Linked DNA regions of Homo sapiens: region 2 is linked to region 1. The links come from fine-mapping of genetic effects on gene expression. A gene starts in region 1. The other region holds a variant in brackets. All regions are shown on one strand. Distances are from middle to middle. Region 1 holds the start of PPP1R14A (protein phosphatase 1 regulatory inhibitor subunit 14A). Region 2 overlaps CATSPERG (catsper channel auxiliary subunit gamma).

The links.
Region 2: its variant is fine-mapped to the expression of PPP1R14A in whole blood (TOPMed, PIP 0.97).

The regions. Positions count from the first base shown.
Region 1 is chr19:38,251,851-38,260,703 of GRCh38, reverse strand. PPP1R14A (protein phosphatase 1 regulatory inhibitor subunit 14A) reads left to right here and starts at 4,330. Exons shown (of 4, transcript NM_033256.3): 1 at 4,330-4,565; 2 at 7,730-7,810; 3 at 8,366-8,398. The coding sequence starts at 4,365. RefSeq lists a silencer at 4,351-4,538.
Region 2 is chr19:38,362,389-38,371,241 of GRCh38, reverse strand. CATSPERG (catsper channel auxiliary subunit gamma) reads right to left here. Exons shown (of 29, transcript NM_021185.5): 19 at 8,668-8,853; 20 at 8,410-8,528; 21 at 6,271-6,351; 22 at 6,125-6,181; 23 at 3,930-4,086; 24 at 3,670-3,733; 25 at 3,466-3,561; 26 at 3,105-3,194; 27 at 1,178-1,270; 28 at 984-1,083; 29 at 299-716. The coding sequence ends at 450. Among named protein-coding and RNA genes, the nearest start is that of PSMD8, 7.8 kb to the left of the region's middle. RefSeq lists a silencer at 8,504-8,583 and an enhancer at 8,316-8,853. The variant TGG/G (reference allele first, on the strand shown) is at 4,396.

The DNA of each region.
Region 1 (8,853 bases):
TGCAGTGCAATGGCACGATCTTGGCTCATCGCAACCTCCACCTCCCGGGTTCAAGCGATTCTCCTGCCTCAGTCTCCCAAGTAGCTGGGATTACAGGCTTGTACCACCACACCCGGCTAATTTTTGTATTTTTATGGAGATGGGGTTTCACCATGTTGGCCAGGCAGGTCTTGAACTCCTGACCTCAGGTGATCTGCCTGCCTTGGCCTCCCAAAGTGCTGGGATTACAGGCATGAGCCACCATGCCCGGCCTTGGTCAGCTTTTTATTTTTAAATTCTCTACAGACAGTGCACCCTCTTTTTGCCTGTACCCAAAGTGGACCAGTCCTGTCCCCCTGCCTTTAGTATGCTACTAGTTGGGAAACAGACAATAATTTTTTTTTTCTGTCACTGCACAGAACAGAAAATATGACATTTTTCTTTTTGAGACAGGGTCTCACTCCATCACCCAGGCTGGAGTGCAGTGGTGCAATCACAGTTCACTGCGTCCTCCATCTCCTGGACTCAAGTGATCCTCCCAACTCAGCCTCCAGAGTAACTGGGACTACAAGCATGTACTATTGCACCTGGCTTTTTTTTTTTTTTTTTTTTTTTGTAGCGACAGGGTCTCACTATGTTGCCCAAGCTGATCTTGAACTCCTGGATGTAATTGCTCCTCCTGCCTCAGCATCCTATAGTGCTGAGATTACAGGTGTGAGCCACCACGCCTGGCATGGACAATACATTAAATGAGTACATTATATATAATGTTAGAGGCCAGGCATGGTGGCTCATGCCTGTAATTCCAGCACTTTGGGAGGTCAAGACGGGCAGATCGTCTGAGGTCAGGAGTTCGAGACCAGCCTGACCAACATGGTGAAACCCCATCTCTACTGAAAATATAAAAAGTAAGCGGACACAGTGGTGTATAACTGTAGTCCCAGCTACTCAGGAGGCTGAAGCAGGAGAATCTCTTGAACCCAGGAGGCAGAGGTTGCAGTGAGCCATGATCACAATACTATACTCCAGCCTGAGGTGACTCCAACTCAAAAAAAAAAAAAAAAAAAAAAAAAAAAAAAAAAAAATATATATATATATATATATATATATAATGTTAGAAAGTGGTAAGTGTTATGTATCAAACAGAGCTGGATGAGGGGCACGAGAGTTGCAGTGTGAAATAGCGTGGCCAGGGAAGACCTCACTGAACAGTGACATTGGAGGGAGGTGAAGGAGTGAGCCCTGATGATATTCTAGGGAAGAACCTTCCTGGCAGAGGGAACTGCGAGTGAAAGGTGCTGGTGCTGAAATGGGACTGTCCCTGGCAGAGATGGGACTGCTAAACCAGAGTTTGGCCTTTAGACTGAAGGTCATGGGTAGCTATGGATAGTTGTTTTTTATTTTTGTTTTTTTAGAGATGGGGTCTTTCTCTGTCGCCCAGGCTGGAGTGTGATGGCACGATCTCAGCTCACTGCAGCCTCCGCCTCCCAGGTTCAAGCAATTCTCCCACCTCAGCCTCCTGAGTAGCTGGGATTACAGGGGTGCACCACCATGCTTGGCTAATTTTTTTTGCATTTTTAGTAGAGACGGGTTCACCATGTTGGTCAGGCTGGTCTCAAACTCCTGACCTCAGATAATCCACTCACCTCAGCCTCCCAAAGTGCTGGGATTACAGACGTGAACCATGGCGCCTGGCCTGTTTTTAATTTTGAAATAAAACAGCTTTATTGAAGCCGGGCACGGTGGCTCACGCCTGTAATCCCAGCACTTTGGGAGGCCTAGGCAGGTGGATTACCTGAGGTCAGGAGTTCAAGACCAGCCTGGCCAACATGGTGAAACCCCGTTTCTACTAAAAATACAAAAATTAGCCAGGCGTGGTGGCACACCCCTGTAATCCCAGCTACTCGGGAGGCTGAGGCAGGAGAATTGCTTGAGCCTGGGAGGCAGAGGTTGCAGTGAGCTGAGATCATGCCAGTGCACTCCAGCCTGGCCAACAGAGCGAGATTCTGCCTCAAAAAAAAAAAAAAAAAAAAAAAAAAACACAGTCTTATTGAGATATAACTCACATACCATACAACTCACCCTTTATTTATTTAGAGATGGAGTTTCACTTTTGTTGCCCAGGATGGAGTGCAATGGCATGATCTCAGCTCACTGCAACATCCCCCTCCCAGGTTCAAGCGATTCTCCTGCCTCAGCCTCCTGAGTAGTTGGGATTATAGGCATGTGCCCCCATGCCCAGCTAATTTTTGTATTTTTAGTGGAGATGGGGTTTCACCATGTTGGCCAGGCTGGTCTCTAACTCTTGACCTCCGATGATCCATCCGCCTTGCCCTCCCAAAGTGCTGGGATTACAGGCGTGAGTCACTGTGCCTGGCCCAACTCACCTTTTTAAAGTGTATAGTTTGGCCAGGTGTGGTGGCTCGTCCCAGCACCTTATGAGTTTCATGACTGCAATTTTTTTCCTCCCATTCCATGGGTTGTCTCTTCACTTTCTTGATGATGTTCTTTGAAACTCAAAAGTTTTACATTATGGCTGGCTGGTGGAGTGAGGTGGCTCATGCCTATAATCCCAGCACCTTGGGAGGCCGAGGTGGGAGGATCGCTTGAGCCCAGGAATTGGAGAACAGCCTAGGCAACATAGGGAGACCCTGTCTCTACAATTTTTTTTTTTTTTTTTGAGATGGAGTCTTGCTCTGTCACCCAGGCTGGAGTGCAGTGGTGCGATCTTGGCTCACCGCAATCTCTGCCTCCTGGGTTCAAGCAATTTTCCTGCCTCAGCCTCCCCAGTAGCTGCAATTACAGGTGCACACCACTACGCCTGGCTTTTTTTTTTTTTTTTTTGTATTTTTAGTAAAGATGGGGTTTCATCATGTTGGCCTGGCTGGTCTTGAATTCCAGACCTCGTGATCTGCCCACCTCGGCCTCTCAAAGTGCTGGGATTACAGGCATGAGCCACCATGCCTGGCCTTTTTAAAAAAATTATTTATTATTATTTTATTTATTTATTTATTTTGAGACAGAGTCTCGCTCTTGTTGCCCAGGCTGGAGTGCAATGGTGCTATCTTGGCTCACTGCAACCTCCACCTCCCGGGTTCAAGCGATTCTCCTGCCTCAGCCTTCCGAGTAGCTGGGATTACAGGCATGTGCCACCAGGCCCAGCTAATTTTTGTATTTTTAGTAGAGATGGAGTTTCACCATGTTGGCCAGGCTGGTCTTGAACTCCTGACCTCGTGATCCACCCTCCTTGGCCTCCCAAAGTTCTGGGATTACAGGAGTGAGCCACTGCGCCCAGCCACATTTAAATTTTAGAGTATAATTATTGCTGCTTATAATTAGAAGTGAGAAGACTGTTTTGAAGTAAGGGACTTCCCTGGCCACCCTCGCTAAAATTGCAACCTTACCCTCACTCCATTTCTCCTTCTCTGCTTTATATTTCTCCAAAGCACTTATATGATAATAAACTGTATAATACCGTACTTACTGTGTTTCTCATGTATCCCGGCTACAACTGTCAACTGCGTGGGACTGGTTTTGTCTGTTTTGTTCCCTGCTCTATCCCTGGAGCGTAAAGCAGTGTCTGGTATAGAGTGGATACTTAATAGATATTCGTTGAACCGGGCCAGTGGCGGTGGCTCACGCCTGTAATCCCAGCACTTTGGGAGGCGGAGGCAGGCAGATCACTTGAGGTCAGGAGTTCGAGGCCAGCCTGGCCAACATGGCGAAATCCCGTCTCTACTAAAAATACAAAAATTAGCCGGGTGTTGTGGTGCATCCCTGTAATCCCAGCTACTTCGGAGGCTGAGGCAGGAGAATCGCTTGAACCTGGGAGGCGGACGTTGCGGTGAGCCGAGATCGCGCCATTGTACTCCAGCCTGGGCGACAAAGAGAGACATCGACTCAAAAAAAAAAAAATTCGTTGAACGGAATGAGTGAACAAACAAATGGATGGATGAGTGAATGAATGAACGAAGGAACAAGTGACCGCTCGACCTTCTACAGCGACAGCGGCGCAGGCGCTCCCGCACCAACAGCCCCCCACCCCGCCACCGCCAGAGGGCGCAGACAGGCCGGGTCCCGAGTGTCTGTCCCAGGCCCCCGCCCCACAGGATCCCGGCCCGGGAGCCCCCGATGCAGGGACCCGCCCGGGACTCTGGGTCCCCGCCCATACCTCAACTTCGCACGACTGCGTGCCTCAAGCCGACGCAGCGGCCTACTCTCGCACTGCAGACGGGGAAACTGAGGCCTGAGGCGGCCGGGGTGGGGCAGACCTCCCGGCGAGCCCGAGCCCCCGCCCCCGGCTAGCCCCGCCCTGGCCCGTAAGAAGCACCCGGGGCGCGAGGCGAAGGCGCACAGCGCGGGGCCAGGCTGGGTCCAGCAGCGCGATGGCAGCTCAGCGGCTGGGCAAGCGCGTGCTGAGCAAGCTGCAGTCTCCATCGCGGGCCCGCGGGCCAGGGGGCAGTCCCGGGGGGCTGCAGAAGCGGCACGCGCGCGTCACCGTCAAGTATGACCGGCGGGAGCTGCAGCGGCGGCTGGACGTGGAGAAGTGGATCGACGGGCGCCTGGAGGAGCTGTACCGCGGCATGGTGAGCCCGGGGAGGGCTCGGGGGTGGTCGGGGACAGATAGAGCCCGGGCGCGGAGACCCCACGCCCTTGGGGTCTCGGTGCACACTCGCTGGTGCACGGCCAGCCTGGTCTGCACAAGAGGACGAGCGCCCCAGGGCCGGGCACTCATTGGCCTGGCCATCCGTGCTCTATGGCATTGTGCTTGTGGACACACCGAGAGCAACACACAAAGACTTGGGTCTCCAGAGATGTGTCCAAACGCCTGTGGAGGGCCAGGGGTTTAGCATGAGGAGGGAGGAGGCTAAGTTGAGCTGAAACCGCCACGTCTGGAGAAAGAGTGGGGGAAGGGGGGTGTCATAAAGCCAAACACAGACATGGTGACAGGGGAGATACAGCCACACAGAGACCCACGGCAAAGGAAGCAAAAGCAGACACAGATGTGCACAGTGAAGGAAGCTATAGCCACTCACGGACACAGCCCAGAAGTAACAGCCATGCACAAACCCACAAGGACACAAGCGGGGGCTGGGGGGGGGTCACCTACAGTTCAACATATGCTACAGTCACAGCCACCCGCAGACACAGCGGCATGGGCCACAGCCGTAGGCAGACACAGCACAACCCCACTGGAACACAAAATGACTCAAGTTACGGCCCTTCCTTATCTCCTAAAGAAAAAACTGACCACCTTCAAGCACAAGCGCTGATCCGCAGCCACTCAAAGACATAAAACAACAGAAATTGGCCCAGCACAGTGGCTCACGCATTTTGTGAGGCCGGGGCAGGAGGATTGCTTGACGTCAGGAGTTCAACACCAGCCTGGGCAACATGGGGAAAACCTGTCTCTACCAAAAATCTTAAAACTTAGCCGGGCGTGGTGGCATGCACGCACTTGTAATCTCAGCTCCTCAGGAGGCTGAGGTGGGAGGATTGCTTGAGCCTGAGAGGCCAAGGTCACAGTGAGCCAAGATTGCACCACTGCACTCCAGCCTGGGCAACAGAGCGAGACCGTGTCTCAAAAACAAACAAAACCCAACAGAATTTATAACTACACCCAGACATAAAACTGTGTAAGCACCGGGCACGGTGGCTCACGCCTGTAATCCCAGCACTTTGGGAGGCCGAGGCGGGCGGATCACCTGAGGTCAGGAGTTTGAGACCAGCCTGATCAACATGGAGAAATCCCGTCTCTACTAAAAAATACAAAATTAGCCGGGTGTGGTGGCACATGCCTGTAATCCCAGCTACTCGGGAGGAGAATCGCTTGAACCCGGGAGGAGGAGGTTGCGGTGAGCCGAGATCCCGCCATTGCCCTCCAGCCTGGGCAACAAGAGCGAAACTCCGTCTCAAAAACAAACAAACAAACAAAAAACTGTAAGCTATAGGAACAGGTGGACATACAACTGCAGAACCCACCGCTGCTCACAGGCACACAAGAGCCTAAGCCACAGCTACATGTATTGACACACACAGGTACTTCATCACTTGAGTTTCTGCTTGAAGTCACACTTTCAGTGACTTCTTTTTTCTTTTCCTTAGAGGTGGGGCCTCATTGGCCGAGCACAGTGGCTCACGCCTGTAATCCCAGAACTTTGGGAGGCCAAGGTGGGCAGATCACTTGAGGTCAGGAGTACGAGACTAGCCTGGCCAACATGGTGAAACCCTGTCTCTACTAAAATTACAAAAATTAGCCGGGCATGGTGGCAGGCAGCTGTAATCCCAGCTACTTGGGAGGCTGAGGCAGGAGAATCACTTGAACCCGGGAGGCGGAGGTTGCAGTGAGCCAAGATCGCGCCATTGTACTCCACCCTAGGTGACAGAAGGAGACTTTGTCTCAAAAAAAAGAAAAAAGAAAAAGAGATGGGGCCTCGCTATGTTGCTCAGGCTGATCTTGAACTCCTAGGCTCAAGCAATTCTCTCTTGTCGGCCTCCCAAAATGTCAGGATTACAGGCGTGAGCCACTGCGCCTGGCCTTCTGTGACTTCTGTATGCTACAGTGTACACAGGACCCACGAGTCCTCCTCTTCATGGTGCGACAATGGTGGAAGGCATGGCCCTTCTCCCATGGTGACATGCAGTCCCTCTGTTCTCAGACTCACACCTGGGCCCATACAGGTGAACCAATCTGGTTGCTAGTGGCAGGTGGCATCTATGAGGCCATTCTCAGGTGGTGGGCCCCACAGCTGACTGTGGACACATGCTGATGTGTCACACACCCAAGCCAGAGCCACACACCTCACACCTGCAGGACCACAGTCCACTATACGAAGCCACTGCACGATGCCAGGTCCCTCTGCATCCTCGGCCAGCCCCAGGCCCTTGGCATCAGGCTGTGGCCCTGGCAGAGACTCACACACCTGTGTCCTTGCTGAAGCCCCTTCACCACACATGAACCAGGACCATCCAGCCCTGAAGCCCCAGGCCTGAAGCCGACAGCCGGACTTTGGGTTGGGGAGGAAAGGATTCATAACCCCAAGGCTCTCTTGCTCCCTCGACAGCTGGGGACAGCTGGGTCCTATTCCCAGCAGGGGTACTGAGCCAGCCTGCGCTTGGGCCACTGCCTGTAGAGGCCACACTCAGCGCCCCGCTCTTAGCAGCTGAGTTGAGCCATGACTCATCCCACCCACCCACCTTGAGGGGCCTCGGTGGTCCTCCCTTCGGTCTCACCAGGCTGCATTTTGGCCCTCTGGGGGCTGGCCCAAGCCGTCCCCTCCCTTCCTGTCCCCTCCCTTCCTGTCCCCTGGGGGAAGGGGCCGCCCCAGCTGGCTGCTGGCTGCCAGCCTCTCCTCCCCTGCACCTAGTGCTAAGACTTTTCCTTGAAAGGGCAGAAGCCAGCTCCTCTCCCGAATCCCAGAATCTGACATTCCAGGACTCCACTAGGCCTGTTTTCCTCTGTGGGAACTAGAGCCAAGGCGAGAGACCCGTGCCAGCCCCGAGGCTCCCGGGGCCCATGGGCCCAGGCATCGGGCTGGTACAGGGCCCCGGGGCTCTCTCAGCCCATCTGTCACCCCTCCCCCCCAACACCCAGATGTCCCGTCTTGGCAGTGCTGTCCCGGACTGCCACATTAATGCTCCAGAACCCGCCAGCTGGGCCCTGGGGCCGGTGGGGCTCCTGCAGAGCCCTGGACAAAGGCGAGGGAGGGAGGGAAGGGGATCCTAAGCACCCCTCCCTCCCTGGCCCTAGGAGGCAGACATGCCCGATGAGATCAACATTGATGAATTGTTGGAGTTAGAGAGTGAAGAGGAGAGAAGCCGGAAAATCCAGGTAGGTGGGGGGACGTGTCCCCCAGCCTCCCACTTTGCACCTCCCTAAAAATAATAGCAATAGTTCACGTGTTTACTGAGTGCTCACTAGATGCCGGGCACTGGTGTGATGGCTTTACATGTATTCACTCACTTAACCCTCACAAAACCCTCCGAAGCAGGCGCTAGTGTGAGCTCCATTTTCCCCATGAGGAAAATGAGGCCCAGAGAGGTTGAATCCCTTGCCCAGTGTCACACAGCTCAGAAGGAGCAGAGCTGGGCATCGAACCCAGGCAGTTTGGCAGCCATGTCTTTGCTTATGGCTTATACCTTTTTAGAGGAGGGAAGTGCTGTGTGACCCTCTCGCCCTCTCTGGATCTAGTAACTCACCCCTGCCCTGAGTCGATCCACATGCCCCTTGGGCTCTGTTCCTCTCTTGAAGCTTGGTGGGCAGTCCACCCTGGAGTCTGACTTCCATTTGTCTTGCTGCTGGGGCCTTTTGGGAAAGGGAAGGGGCTGGAGGGGAGTAGGTGTTAGTCATTTACTGTTTTGTTTTGTTCTTGGTTGGGGGTTTTAGGGACTCCTGAAGTCATGTGGGAAACCTGTCGAGGTGAGTTTTCTCTCCCTCATTCTCTCCCTGTTCTGGCCCCAAGTACTCTGATGGGGGAGGGGGAAGAAGCTGGCAGAAGGGTCTCTGGGGAACACCACCCGGCCCCACCACCCCCGGCCCCAACCTGCCCTCCGCAGCTCTTTCTGGTCTCCAGGGGTGTCTTTTGTCCTCCTACTTGTCTCTCTCCCTCTCTCCCCCATCTGCTGAGGGGGCTCCATTCTGTCCTCCCCCATCTGCCCTGTTTTTGCCTCTCCTGTGCCTGTCCTTTGGCCACCAGCCTTCGGGCTCAGTCTCCCTCTGTCCTCCCCTGTCACTGCCTCCGCCACCCCGGGCTCCCTTCCCCACCTCTGGGGGCCCTCCATCCTCCCAGGCCCTGAAGCTGAGCGGCCCAACCCCTCCCACTTCCTTCCCTGCTTTAAAAGGGAAAACTATTCATGTTTCTCCAACTAGCTCTA
Region 2 (8,853 bases), 110 kb before region 1:
TCCCAGGTTCAAGGGATTATCCTGTCTCAGCTTCCCAAGTAGCTGGAATTACAGGTACGCACCACCATGCCCAGCTAATTTTTTGTATTTGTAGTAGAGACAGGGTTACGAGTTTTCACCATGTGGGCCAGGGTGGTCTCAAACTCCTGACCTTAAGTGATCTGCCTCCTTCGATCTCCCGAAGTGCTGGGATTACCGGCATGAACCACCATGCCCAGCCAGGTTTATGATATTTTAATGTGCAGCTATGCTGGTACAAACCTTCTGAACTCGAGCTTTTAAGAGAGCCCACTGCTGGTCCTGAAAAAAGGCTTTATTTGAGTCTGAACGAGAAGTAAACATCAAGCAAAACAGAAAGAGAGGCCTGGGCTGGGTGACAGGTTGCATCTTCAAGATGGGCCTCATAAGAGAGGCGTGACAGTAACTGGGGGCTGGGGCAGGTGGGACACTCAGGTCATCAACTGTCTCTCCACGGCTTCCTTGGGTTCAGCCCTGTCCTCTGTCATCCTGGAGCTGAACATGGAGCCCATCCTGGAATGTCTCAGAGACGGCATGCTCGAGATTCCGGAAATGGAGGCGTAGGTGTAGTAGGATTCTGAGGCAATGAGGTTGTTTATCTTCCACCGGATCATCGTGCAGCCCTTCACCACGAGGGGCCACAGGAGGCAGAAGGCGATGTAGAAGATCACCAGGCCCACAAACACGCTAGCTGACACCTGCAGGGAGCAAAGAATGAGTAAGGAGTTGGCACATGATAAGGTACACAGTCCACAATCTGCATCCACAGTGACAGGGAAATTGACAGATGGAGGCATGACAGCAGGAGGAAATGAATGAGTAGACAGCCTGTGGCATGGCAGGCGTTCAGTCAGCATGGCTAGATGAGTGAATAAAGGAATGAATGAGCGAAGGTATAACAAGCATAGGTATGGAGGCGTGGGCCCCTGCCCACCCAGTAGGGCAGCTCCCGGACAGCCACTCACCATGATGATGAAAAGGGCCCGCTTGGGACTGAGTGGCAGCCCGTGGATGTGCAGCAGGAAGGTGAGCTGGTAGTTGCAGTAGGTGCTCGTGTCCACTCCTCTGCAGGGGTTGGGAGGGGATCCAGGATTAGAGGAGAAGCCAGGCATTCCATGGGCAGCCCCTGACCCGCACCTGGGCCACTTGCCTGGCTCACCTATTGCTCACCAACACCTTGAAGAAGAATTCAGGGGCAAAGATGCCTTGGGGAACATTGTCATAGCATGGGGCATTCTCCAGACAGAGCCACCTGCAAGCCAAAGATCAGGCAGTTGTGCTACCAACCATGCCTAGTCTGTGCCAACTCCCAATTTCTTCCTCCACCCAATGTTTTCGGTGAGGACCAAATGGGTGCAATCTCATGCCTTCCCTCATTCATTCCTTCATTCACTCATTCATTCATGCTGACTGAACGCCTACTGTGCCACAGGTTGTCTACTCATTCATTTCCTCCTGCCTTCACACCTCCATCTGTCAATTCCTCTGTCACTGTGCATCCATCCAGATTACAGGCTGTGTATCTATCATATGCCAAATCCTTATTCATTCTTTGCTGCTTGCATTCCTTTATCCCATAAATATAGCTTGAGCACTTACTAGGTACAAAGTCACATCTTTCATTTATTCCCTTCTTTATTCATTATCCAATAAATGCAGGTTAGGCCAGGCATAGTGGTTCACACCTATAATACCAGCACTTTGGGAGGCCGAGGCAGGTGGATCACTTGAGGTCAGGAGTTCAAGACCAGACTGACCAATATGGTGAAACCCCGTCTCTACAAAAAATACAAAAATTAGCGGGGCATGGTGGCATGCACCTGTAATCCCAGCTACACAGGAGGCTGAGTTGGGAGAATTACTTGAACCCAAGAGGCAGAGGTTGCAGTGAGCTGAGATTGTACTACTGCACTCCAGCCTGGGTGACGGAGCAAGACTCTGTCTCAAAAAAATAAATAAAAATAAAAAATAAAGCAGGTTAAATTCTGACTAGGTGCAAGTTGTTCGTTCATTCACTGCCTTCATTTGCTCATGGCTTCATTTTTTTCCTTTCATTGAATGAAACTTACTGAGCCCCTATATATGAATTTGTTTCTCCATTGTTTTATTCATTCATTAATACCCCCATTCAGATATCAATAAATGCCTGCCACGAATTGATTTATTCATTTGTTCATTCTTTCATTCAATACATGCTATGTTAACCAGCCTGGCCAACATGGTGAAACCCCGTCTCTACTAGAAAAAAAAATACAAAAATTAACCGGGCATGGTGGCATGTGCCTGTAATCCCAGTACTTTGGGAGGCTGAGGCAGGCGGATCACCTGAGGTCAGGAGTTCAAGATCAGCCTGACCAACGTGGTGAAACCCCATCCCTACTAAAAATACAAAAATTAGCCAGGCATGGTGGCGGGTGCCTGTAATCCCAGCTACTTGGGAGGCTGAGGCAGGAGAATTGCTTGAACCCAGGAGGCAGAGGCTGCAGTGAGCTGAGATTGTGCCACTGCACTCCAGCCTGGTGGGCCACAGAGGGAGCCTGTCTCAAAAAATAAACAGGAGGCTGAGACAGGAGAATCGCTTGAACCTGGAAGGTGGAGGTTGCAGTGAGCTGAGATCTTGCCACTGCATTCCAGCCTGGGCAACAAAGAGCAAAACTCCATCTCAAAAATAAAAACAAATTTATGAGTCTATTCAGGACCCAGTTCTGGAGGAGAGACAGACCCCACACCAGACAGTGACTGCCCAGAGCTGTCCACTCTGGGATGGGGACGCACAGGTAGGGGGCTCAGGGCCAGGATGGGAGAGCCCCAAGAGGCCATAGGAGCCATGAAGGGACAATTGTCCCATCTTGAAACAGAAAAGTCCTCCTGGCTGAAGGGGCATCTGCCTAAGGCCTGAAAAGAGTCGGAGGGAGCAGCATTCCAGGCAGAGACTTCAGCTTGTGCAAAGTTCAGCCCCATTTAAGTAACACAAAGGCAGTCAGTGTGACTTGGGGATCAAGAGGCCTCCTAGGGGCAGAAAGGATAGGTGGGCCCAATGGACTACCGACAGATGGGGGCCAAGAGGGGCCAGGCTACGCACTCACTCGATGCCTGGGCTCTCGTGGGACATGATGTGAAAGGCTGAGTCTTTGGTGGTCCTTGTGGTCCTCGTGGTCCAGATAAGGCTGTTGGTCCTGTGCAGGCCCAGGTCATCTCAGCCAGGGGTTGGGGGGCGGTGTAGGGGAGGTATGACCTCAGTGGTCAGTGTGGAGGGAGGCCACAGGTGGGTGCAGGGGACATGGTGTTAGGGGCGGGCAGGAGTTTGCCTGTGAGATCCTAAGAGCCCCACTGTGGGCAGGGCCTGAGACGCAGAGGTGGGGGCTTGCGAGGTGGGCTTGGCTTGGAAGTGGGAAAGGCCTCCAGGGGAAGCAAGGTGGATTACACGTGGGACCCCACGGGGATTACTTGTCCAGGGGGCTGTTGAAGCGGTAGATTTCGTCCTCACTGTAGTCCTTGAGGCTGTCCAGTGTGGGCCCGCCACCCACCACCAGCAGAACATAGCTACCAGGGACAGAAGTGCACACAGACTGGCCTCCGGGTCTCGAGTCCTGCACCCATCTCCTTCCACTCCCTCCACCTGCCCTAGCTGCAAGCTGGCCACGCCTTTACCTGCCCTGGAAACTGCCGGAGTCTCCTGTCACCAAATCTTGAATCAAGAAGAAGGGGTAGAAAACTATGGGGTTGGAGGGGATTGAGACCAGAAGAAGAAATTAGCTTGGCCCGAGAAGCTGAGGACCGAGACGGGGGAAAGTGAGATGCCGCAGGAAAAAGGGTGGGTAGTCTGCGGGGAGAGGAATGGGGAGGGAGAGCACAAAGTAGTGGGGGCAAGAGGGCAGTGAACTGTGCAGGGGAAGGGACTGGACACACACTGTCCCGGAAGAGAAAGCAGGGCATCTCCGGGTTCACGTTAACGCAGTCAAAGTAGTGTTTGTTCTTCAGGCGGCTGTATTCCAGCGTGTAGGTGATGTCGAAGGCCAGGCGCTTGCCTGGGGGGCAGCCAATGAACACTGGCACCATCAGGTTGCCCTCGGTGGGAGGAAAAAAGGCTCACAGGGGTGGCCAGGGTCTCCTCAGGCCCCTGGAGGGGTAAGGGGCAGGAAGGACAGTCCCCCTCCCACAAACACCACCACCAGCTGCCTGGCTCTCCCTCACCCCCAAGGGCAATATGGTCATTAATATCATTAACACGGCCTGGTGCAGTGGCTCATGCCTGTAATCCCAGAACTTCGGGAGGCCGAGGCGGGCTGATCACTTGAGTCCAGGAGTTCGAGACTAGCCTGGCCAGCACAGTAAAACCCTGTCTCTACTAAAAATACAAAAAATTAGCTGGGTGTG[TGG/G]TGGTGCATGCCTGTAATCCCAGCTACTCGGGAGGCAGAGGCTGGAGAATCGCTTGAACCAGGGAGGTAGAGGCCAAGACTGCACCACTGCACTCCAGCCTGGGTGACAGAGCAGGACTCTGTCTCAAAAAAAAAAAAAAAAAGACCGAGAGCCTGCCTGTTCTCTCCCCTAAACCTCCAACTCCTTTGCCCCCACCCTGTTTTGTCCAACCTTGTCTCTTCCAGAGTCTCCCTGCTTCCAGTCCCCTCATTGATGTCCCCCCACCCCATGCAGCCAGATGGGCCCTGGGGACACCCGAGTCCCTCCTCTGCTTAGAGCCCTCCCGAGGAGCCAGCTCACATACCATGGCCCATAAGGGCTCCGCTTACTCTGCCCCATCACTGCTCCGAGCTCATCCCACCACGTTCCCCCTTGCCCACCCTGATGCAATCACACTTCCTCCTTGTTTATTCAGTCTAGCACATGAAATCTCATGTACTCTAAGGAGGTGGGGGCTGTTACAACCCCTTTTGACTGCCCAAGGTCATTCTAAGCCAGGAGGGAGGAACACCAGGATCTGCATGCCAGGGAGTGGGTAGGGAAATGGGTGAGAACAAGAACTCTGGGGCACGCCCCTCCTCTACCACTTATTAGCTCCCTGGGTTACTCTGCACCTCTCTGAGCCTCAGTGTCTGCCCCGGGCAAAGGCGATATCACGTGTATAAGCAAGTGAAGCACCAAGCACCCAAAGAACTGAATGAGGAATGTGTGAGTGGGCAGAAGAAGAGAGAGATGTGAAAGCAGGGCCAGGCCAGCCCTTATGCCACCTTTGTGCCAATTGCAAAAAGTGGCCCTAGGTCGGGCACGGTGGCTCACACCTGTAATCCCAGCACTTTGGGAGGCCAAGGCCGGCAGATCACCTGAGGTTAGGAGTTCAAGACCAGCCTGGCCAACATGGTGAAACTCCGTCTCTATTTAAAATATAAAAAATTAGCTAGGCATGGTGGTATGCAACTGTAATCCCAGCTACTTGGGAGGCTGAGGCAGGAGAATCGCTTGAACCCGGGAGGTGGAGGTTGCAGTGAGCCGAGATTGCACCATTGCACTCCAGCCTGGGGGACAAGAGTGAGACATCGTTAAAAAAAAAACAAAAAACAAAAAAAAAACGGCCCTGTTGCTCACTCTATTCTCCCTCTGAAGAAAAGTTATCAGAGGGAACATACCAGTTTGTGTGCAACCTGCACAACTGGGAAGGTGGCCCTTTCTGAAAACGTGAATGAATGAAAGGAGTTAGGCCGGGCATGGTGGCTCACACCTGGAATCCCAGCACTTTGGGAGGCTGAGGCGGGTGGATCATTTGAGTTTAGGAGTTTGTGACCATCCTGGCCAACATGGAAAAACTCTGTCTCCACTAAAAATACAAAAAATTAGCCAGCCGTGGTGGCGGGCGCCTATAATCCCAGCTACTTGGGAGGCTGAGGCAGGAGAATCACTTGAGCCAAGGAGGCAAAGTGAGCCAAGACCGCGCCGCCGCACTCCAGCCTGGGCAACAAGAGTGAAACTCCGTCTTAAAGAAAAAAGAATGAAAGGAGTTAGTGGGTGGTAGTGGGTGGGTGGATGAATGTTGAGAAAGAATGAGAAGAAAGGAAATTATGAATGCATTAGTGGGATTCTCAGGGGGATTAGCCCTGTTGAGACCCGACCCCAACCTTCCCCTCCCAGGGCCCAGTATCCCAAGCTCCAATACTTGCATATGGGGCCCCAGGTGTGTTTCCTGGAAGCAGAGCCCGGATGAACCCACCACCTGTGGGTAGGAGCAGGTGAAGATGGTGATCCCCGCCGGCCCAGGCTTTCCCACCATCCTGCACCCTCCCCTCCAGGCTTGGACCTCACATTGACCGTCATGGAAGTCTCCATAAGGTGATGTCCACTAATGCCTTGGTCATAGCAAAGCTTTTTATCCTTGAGCGTAATCTGGGGTTGAAGGAGGGGAGAGGCAGAAATGAAGGGGTGAACAGGTCTCCCCAAAGTCCAACAAACAGTTCAAATAACCCATAGCTGGGGCGAGGTGGTGGCTGGTAGGAAAACGGAAGGCTGCCATTTTCTACTCAGGAATAGGCTAACGGGGTGTTGGCCGGGCTGGTCTCCAGCTCCTAACCGCGAGTGATCCGCCAGCCTCGGCCTCCCGAGGTGCCGGGATTGCAGACGGAGTCTGGTTCACTCAGTGCTCAATGGTGTCCAGGCTGGAGTGCAGTGGCGTGATCTCGGCTTGCTACAACCTCCGCCTCCCAGCCGCCTGCCTTGGCCTCCCAAAGTGCCAAGAGTGCAGCCTCTGCCCGGCCGCCACCCCGTCTGGGAAGTGAGGAGTGTCTCTGCCTGGCTGCCCATCGTCTGGGACGTGAGGAGCCCCTCTGCCTGGCTGCCCACTCTGGAAAGTGAGGAGCGTCTCTGCCCGGCCGCCCATCGTCTGAGATGTGGGGAGTGCCTCTGCCCCGCTGCCCCGTCTGGGATGTGAGGAGCGCCTCTGTCCGGTCGCGACCCCATCTGGGAGGTGAGGAGCGTCTCTGCCCAGCCGCCCTGTCTGAGAAGTGAGGAGACCCTCCGCCTGGCAACCGCCCCGTCTGAGAAATGAGGAGCCCCTCCGCCCGGCAGCCACCCTGTCTGGGAAGTGAGGAGCGTCTCCGCCCGGCAGCCACCCCGTCCTGGAGGGAGGTGGGGGTCAGCCCCCGCCAGGCCAGCCGCCCCGTCCGGGAGGGAGGTGGGGGGGTCAGCCCCCCGCCCGGCCAGCTGCCCCGTCCGGGAGGTGAGGGGCACCTCTGCCCGGCCGCCCCTGCTGGGAAGTGGGGAGCCCCTCTGCCCGGCCACCACCCCGTCTGGGAGGTATGCCCAACAGCTCATTGAGAACGGGCCATGATGACAATGGCGGTTTTGTGGAGTGGAAAGCGGGGAAGGGTGGGGAAAAGATTGAGAAATCGGATGGTTGCCGTGTCTGTGTAGAAAGAAGTAGACATGGGAGACTTTTCATTTTGTTTTGTACTGGGAAAAATTCTTCTGCCTTGGGATCCTGTTGATCTGTGACCTTACCCCCAACCCTGTGCTCTCTGAAACATGTGCTGTGTCCACTCAGGGTTAAATGGATTAAGGGCGGTGCAAGATGTGCTTTGTTAAACAGATGCTTGAAGGCAGCATGCTCGTTAAGAGTCATCACCACTCCCTAATCTCAAGTACCCAGGGACACAAACACTGCGGAAGGCCCCAGGGTCCTCTGCCTAGGAAAACCAGAGACCTTTGTTCACTTGTTTATCTGCTGACCTTCCCTCCACTATTGTCCTAGAAACACCCAAGAATGATCAATAAAAAAAAAAAAAAAAAAAAGGAATAGGCTAACGGGGCCAAGCACAGGGTGGTTCATGCCTCACACCTCACACCTCACGCCGAGGCATGAGGATCTCTTGAGTCCAGGAATTCGAGGCCAGCCTGGGCAACATAGGGAGACCCCCGTCTCTACAAAAAATAAAAAGTTAAGGCTGGGTGCAGTGGCTCACGCTTGTAATCCCAGCACTTTGGGAGGCCAAAGTGGGCAGATTATTTGAGGTCAGGAGTTCAAGACTAGCCTGGCCAACATGGTAAAACCCCATCGCTACTAATAATACAAAAAATTAGCTGGGTGTAGTGGCATGCACCTGTAATCTCAGCTACTAGGGAGGCTGAGGCAGGAGACTCGGTTGAATCTGGGAGGCAGAGGTTACAGTGAGCCGAGATCGTGCCATTGCACTCCAGCCTGGGCGACTGAGCAAGACTCCGTCTCAAAAGAAAAACAAAAAGTTCACTGGGCACTGTGGTGCGTGCCTGCAGTCCCAGCTACTCAGGAGGTTGAGGGAGGAGGATCGCTTGAGCCCAGGAGGCCAAGAATGCAGTGATCGCTCCACTGGCACTCCAGCCTGAGCGACAGAGCAAGACCCTGTCTCCAAAAAAAAAAAAAAAAAAAAAAAACAAAACCTCCCTTGATCCCAACTCCCCGGGGGGCCTCACCGAAAATAGCACCGAGTTGCGATTAATCAGGACCTCCTGCTTCACCGAGGCCTCGATGCAGCCGGGGTCGGCCAGCACCACGCCCACGTCCACCTGGCTATGCAGCTGGAAGGCGGTGCCTGCTCCGGGCAGTAAACGGGGTTAAGGCCTCCCTCACAGACAGGCCCCGCCCCTCCGATGGTGTCCCCGCCCCCCAGGCTCCCAGATTCTGGTAGCCCTCGCCCCGCCCTTCGGGCTCCACTCTGGTCCCGCGCAGACCGAGTTCTGACTGCGTCCGGAACGAGTGGCCCTGCGCCGACAGGAAGATGGCGAAGCTGTACTCAGTGCCCTTGTCCAGGAAAATGCGCTCCGGCAGCTCGTACGCGGACTCGAGGTTGTAGATCTTTTCGTAGCTGTCCATTTCTATGGACACGCCGCCCGCGCTTCGCCAATTGCTCGCCAAGA